Linked DNA regions of Homo sapiens: region 1 is linked to region 2. The links come from fine-mapping of genetic effects on plasma protein levels. Region 2 holds a variant in brackets. A gene starts in the other region. All regions are shown on their forward strands. Region 1 holds the start of MUC2 (mucin 2, oligomeric mucus/gel-forming). Region 2 overlaps CD209 (CD209 molecule).

What was found. PIP is the chance, under the fine-mapping model, that this variant and not a neighbour inherited with it causes the effect. The UK Biobank Pharma Proteomics Project read protein levels with antibody pairs (Olink). The fine-mapping took linkage between variants from a reference panel, not from the people measured, so its PIPs are less certain.
Region 1: MUC2 starts here. The variant in region 2 is fine-mapped to the plasma level of the MUC2 protein (UK Biobank, PIP 0.92).

What each region holds. Positions count from the first base shown.
Region 1 is chr11:1,073,242-1,076,141 of GRCh38, forward strand. MUC2 (mucin 2, oligomeric mucus/gel-forming) reads left to right here and starts at 1,633. Exons shown (of 58, transcript NM_002457.5): 1 at 1,633-1,736; 2 at 2,410-2,680. The coding sequence starts at 1,661. LOC107987157 (a long non-coding RNA gene) reads right to left here and starts at 193. Exons shown (of 5, transcript XR_007062544.1): 1 at 24-193.
Region 2 is chr19:7,737,903-7,740,794 of GRCh38, forward strand. CD209 (CD209 molecule) reads right to left here. Exons shown (of 7, transcript NM_021155.4): 7 at 2,091-2,892. It also overlaps the pseudogene LOC100129391. Among named protein-coding and RNA genes, the nearest start is that of CLEC4G, 7.2 kb to the left of the region's middle. The variant T/C (reference allele first, on the strand shown) is at 1,724.

The sequences.
Region 1 (2,900 bases), not on the chromosome of region 2:
AGGGTCAGATCTAGGGGACCTACCTCAGGCTTCAGGGCTGGAGGGGCTGTGCTGGGCAGCTTGTGCTCCGCTAGGATTCCTCCAATCCCCCCAGGGCAGGGGGAGCCTGGCCTGGAAAATCTCTGTCCTGAGGCCCGCCTGGGGCATGTCAGGGTCAGGGGACTGCAGTTGGGGCCGTCCTTGGGTTTCCCCAGGGCTCAGTGCCAGTGTGCGGAGGCCCACACCAGGAAGTGAACAATGATCTCCTCTGGCCTCGCCCAGCTGGCTCTGGTTTCCTAATCCCCGGTCCTCCTGGCAGGGGCCACACACTGAGCTTCCTCCACGTGCCCAGGTCCTGGCAGGGAGCGCAGACCCTGGGGCCTGGTGCTGGCGGGCACCGCAGGAGGGCGGGAGGGGCTTCGTCCCAGGCCCTGGGTCTGGGCAGCAGGTCAGCCAGGGAAACAGGCTTGGTGCTTTGGGCCCCGAGTCTCTATAACTGTTGGGGTGAGTCCCTCCCCACTGCCATCATGCTGCCGGCATGTCCCTGGCATGTTCAGGCCAAAGCCAGGAACTCAACTCAGGGCCCCTCTCTATTTTCAGGAGGAGAAAATTGTAGAGAGAGGGGAGGGCCCCCAGACCTCAGTTTACCCACTGGCGACACAGGGGTGCCTGCCTGTGCCCTCCCGGGCCGGGGCAAGCAGTGGTGGGCCCAGTGGTCTCGTAGTCTGGGGTCGGTGTGAGTTCCGGTTCTCCAGGCTTTTTTCCAGACAACTGCTGGGATTGGTGGGCGAGACCAAGGCTCATCAAAGGCACAGCCTTGGGGGCAGGATCCCCACCATGAGTCAGAGGTAGTTCTGGGGAGCCTGGGCAGGCTGTCACCTCCTCAGCTGTCAGGCCCGAGGTCCTCATGTGGTCCCCAGGAGAAGGGGCAGACGGCCACTTCCGGCCACCAGCCAGCTCCCTGTGTGCCTGATTCCGTAACATGTCCCCTGGCTGGGCATGTACTCCCCAAGTTCTAATTACATGTAACTGCAGAGAAGGGCTCAGCCTGGGAAAAGGATGGGCATAGGGGGTGGTTGGGGGCTGGGGCCTCTGACACAGCTCCATGAGCCCGGCCAAGAGTCCCACACAAGTCAGTGGCCCCCCCGGACCCTGAAGGATCCCACATCCTCCCTGCCCTCGGGGAGGCCCCTTTCTGGGGTCAGGCCTGGAAGCTGCCCCAGAGCTTGGGCCCCAGGAATGGGTTGGTCCTCCCAGCGTAACGTGAGCCTGATCAGGCCTGGGGACCTGCTCAGCGGGTGTCTGGGGGCCCATGGCGGGCTAAGGAGCCTGACCAGACTTGCTTCTGGCAGGACACCCCTCCCCCGGCCACCCTGGGCTCGCCCCTCTAGTAGCTGCATGTGTTCCCCGGGTGTGTGTTGGCATTCAGGCTACAGGGCTGCCTCATCCTGAAGAAGGCTGCGTTTACCCAGGGAGCCATAAAGAGATGACCTCCGATAACCTGAATCAATATTTCCCCATTGGGGCTCGGGCCCCCGCAGCTGTCTTCTTGATCATCTGGCAGATGCCACACCCACCCTTGGCCCTCCCCTGCCTTCCTGCCCTCCTACCCTCCTGCCAGGACATATAAGGACCAGACCCCTGCCCCCGGGCGCAACCCACACCGCCCCTGCCAGCCACCATGGGGCTGCCACTAGCCCGCCTGGCGGCTGTGTGCCTGGCCCTGTCTTTGGCAGGGGGCTCGGAGCTCCAGACAGGTGAGAGAGCAGACACAGGGGTCTGGGGCCTGGCAGAGTGTCCTGGGGGCAGGGCGAGGCGGGCGGGCAAGTCGCGTCTGGGAGGAGGAGCTGGTCCCAGAGTGCAGCCTGCGCGGCTCTGCTGAGGCTCCTGGCCCGGGTTGGTCCCTGGAAGCCCCCGGCCCTGCTGACTTTCAAGGAGCTGGAAGGTCGGGGCTCCCCTGCTATTCCTTTGGGGTTGACTGCCCGACGACAGTGTGGGTCTTGGGGCCAGCACCAGGTGGAAACAGCAGGTCAGGCCCCAGTGAACTGGGTCATTGTCCATAGGGGAGGAAGGGGTGGCCAGGATCCCACCAGAAGGCCCCATTCTCAGGTGGCAGAGACCCTTGAAGAGTTGGGGCAGCACAGCCCTTGCTGGGGAGCGGGGTGCCCAGAATGCCCTCTCCTACATCCCGCTTGGCACCCGGCCGCACTCCTCACCAGGCCGGGGGTAGAAGCCCTGAGACCCCTGTGGTGGGGTGACCAAGGCCCAGCAGAGGGCCCGAGGATAGGAAGGAACCTTTCCCGGCCAGGGGCCCTGTGCTGGGCTCGAAGCTGCTTCCAGGTGCTTCTTCAGGGGCCTTCTCTCGAGGGTAGCTTGGGCAGCCTTCCCCCTCCGGGGCCACTCACCCCTCATTCCCCGCTGCTCCCTCAGAGGGCAGAACCCGAAACCACGGCCACAACGTCTGCAGCACCTGGGGCAACTTCCACTACAAGACCTTCGACGGGGACGTCTTCCGCTTCCCCGGCCCCTGCGACTACAACTTCGCCTCCGACTGCCGAGGCTCCTACAAGGAATTTGCTGTGCACCTGAAGCGGGGTCCGGGCCAGGCTGAGGCCCCCGCCGGGGTGGAGTCCATCCTGCTGACCATCAAGGATGACACCATCTACCTCACCCGCCACCTGGCTGTGCTTAACGGGGCCGTGTGAGTGTGGTCGGTGGCACCCCTCCCACATCCTAGCAACGGGGGCTGATGTTTCCCAAAGGGATATTCCTTGTAGCCCTAGAAGACCCCTTCCGCCCCAGCACACAGCTCAGGAGAACAGCCTTGAGGTTTGGGTTCAGGTCACTAATTCATTCAACAAACACTGATGAGCCCCCACCATTCCCCCCATAGGCAAGGGGTTTCAGTTATCCCTTTGCCT
Region 2 (2,892 bases):
TAGTCCCAGCTACTCGGGAGGCTGAGGCAGGAGAATGGCGTGAACCTGGGAGGCGGAGCTTGCAGTGAGCGGAGATCGCCCCACTGCACTCCAGCCTGGGCGACAGAGTCAGACTTCATCTCAAAAAAAAAAAGGGAGGACATTCTGACACATGCTACAACATGATGAACCTTGAGGAAAATATGCTAAGTGAAATAAGCCAGTCATAATAAGACAAAGGCTGTATGATTCCATTCATGCGGGGTCCCTAGAGTCATCAGATTCATAGAAACAGAAAGTAGAATGGTGGGTGCCAGGGGCTGGGGAACGGGGAATGGGGAGTCAGTGTTTCCTGGGGACAGAGTTTCACTTGGGAAGATGAAAAAGTTTGCGAGATGAATGGTGGTGATGGTTACACAACAATGTGAATCTACTTTGTAAAAGAAAAGAAAATTTCATAGGCTGGGCACGGTGACTCACACCTGTAATCCTAGCACTTTGGGAGGCGAAGGCGGGTGGATCACCTGAAGTCAGGAGTTCGAGACCAGCCTAGCGAATGTGGTGAAACCTTGTCTCTACGAAAAATACAAAAAAATTGCCGAGCATGGTGGCGGGTGCCTGTGATCCCAGCTACTCAGGAGGCTGAGGCAGGAGAACTGCTTGAACCCAGGAGGCAGAGGCTGCAGGGAGCTGAGATTGCACCACTGCGCTCCAGCCTGGGTGACAGAGTGAGACTCTGTCTCAAAAAATAAAAATAAAAATAAAAATCCTTTGGGCTCCACCTACTCCACAGATAGATTTTCAAAATTCTGTTGAAGGATTTCCAAACAGATTTTAAAACAAACTTGACAAGCTCATTATTTGGAATATAATAAAGAGGTTATACTCTTTAGTTGGGAATAAATAGCAAAGCTACAAGTGGGGACAGTAACCTCTTGAGATGGGAAAACGGGGACGGAATGAGCTTTAGTTTTCACTGTAGAGATTGATACGTTTTGGTTCTGTGTGCACACGTGACTTATTCCACAAGTAAATGAAAACCTTTAAAGCCAGAGTAGACTCAAAAATCATCCAAAAATTGCACAAGAATACCTGAGAACATTTTGATAGAGAAGAGCCATGACCAGGCAGGCCACAGCGGCCCAGGCCTGTAAACTCAGCACTTTGGGAGGCTGAGGCAGGAGGATGAGTTGAGCCCGGGAGTTCAAGAACAGCATGGGCAACACAGTGAGACCCCATCTCTACAAAAAATTTTTTAAAAGTAGCTAGATATGGTGATGCACACGTGTGGTCCCAGCTACTCAGGAGGCTGAGGTGGGAGGATCACTGGAGCCCATGAGGTCAAGGCTGCAGTGAGCCATGATTGCACCACTGCACTTCAGCCTGGGTGACAGAGCAAGACCTTGTCTCCCACATAAAAGGAGCCATGCCTGGTAGTTATCAAAATATAAGCTTGGCTTGGGTTTCCCCTACTAAAGAGCTTGAGACAAGGATTTGGATATAAGTAGCTTATCTGGGAGGAGATTCCAAGAAGCATCAGCAGGGGATGGGAAGAATGAAGAGGAGCAGGTAGGGAAAGGAAGGAACCCAATACAAAGGCACCAATGAGCTGAAAAGGGCAATTGGGTCCAATCCCCCTGGGAGCCTCTGGGAGACGACATAGAACAAGCCTCACAGTTCCTCTGCCTGTTGAAGGTCAACTCTTAAGTAAGACGGAATTTAGCTTGCAAGCTGTTTATGAAGG[T/C]GCATCTTTGGGGTCAACATCAGTAGAAAGGAAGTGATGTTTGTGGTGTCTTATTTACACCAAAGAAATTCTCTAATTCTAACACTAGCTTCCTGGAGTTAGCACCACATTCCACAAATTAAAGGGCTAGGTCCCAAAAGACTGACCCTGCTTCAGATGCCAGGTGCAAAGACAGTCTTTGCACTGTCTACCCACACTTCTGCCAGGCTGGCAAAAAATTGTGGCTTCCCATAAGTCCATCTCAAGTTCAGTAATTTCCTAGAATGATTTAGAGAACTCGGGAAAACATTTTGCTTATGTTGTTGCCGAACTAAATTGGGTCAGTTCCCTGGCTCACAGTGGAAAACCAAACACTGAAGCACTGGGGTTTTGTAGAGAGAAAAATTTATTGCAAGGCAGCCAAGCAAGGACACAGGAGTCTGGCCCAAATCTGTCTCTCCAAGTTGGAGGCTGGGGCAGATTTTATATACAGAGGGTAGTGAGGCATGATATGATTGGATCTTGTAATGAGGGGATTCAGGAGGCTTGATCTGACTGGATCACGCCAGGGCTCAATCTGATTGGATCAAGGATCATGCCACGTGGTGTCCACTTCTTAACTCAGTCCCTGTTCCTCGGTCTGAGCACTTAGGTTCCACGTGGATTTGCACGCTTCGTTCATCTGGACATGCCCAGGGTATGTAACTTGCAACCTGGGGGTCCACGACAACTGAAAAACAACTCGCCATTTTATTACACAAAGTTGAACCAGATTGGGCTGAATCTGCGGTTACAATGTTTACCAGTTTATTATAAAGGATACAACTAGAGGGGCGGGGCGGTGCCGGCAAGATGGCTGCGCCCGAAAAGGTGACATTTCCAGAGAAACCAAGCCACAAAAAGTACAGGGCCGCCCTGAAGAAGGAGAAACGAAAGAAACGCCAGCAGGAACTTGCTCCACTGAGGGACTCAGGACTCTCACAGAAAGAGGAGGACACTTTTATTGAAAAACAACAACTAGAAAAGCTATGGGGAAGAGAGAGGCAAAGATTACATGAGGAGTGGTTGCTGAGAGAGCAGAAGGCACAAGAAGAATTCAGAATAAAGAAGGAAAAGGAAGAGGTGGCTAGAAAACGGCAAGAACAAGAGCGAAAGTTAAAGGAACAATGGGAAGAACAGCAGAGGAAAGA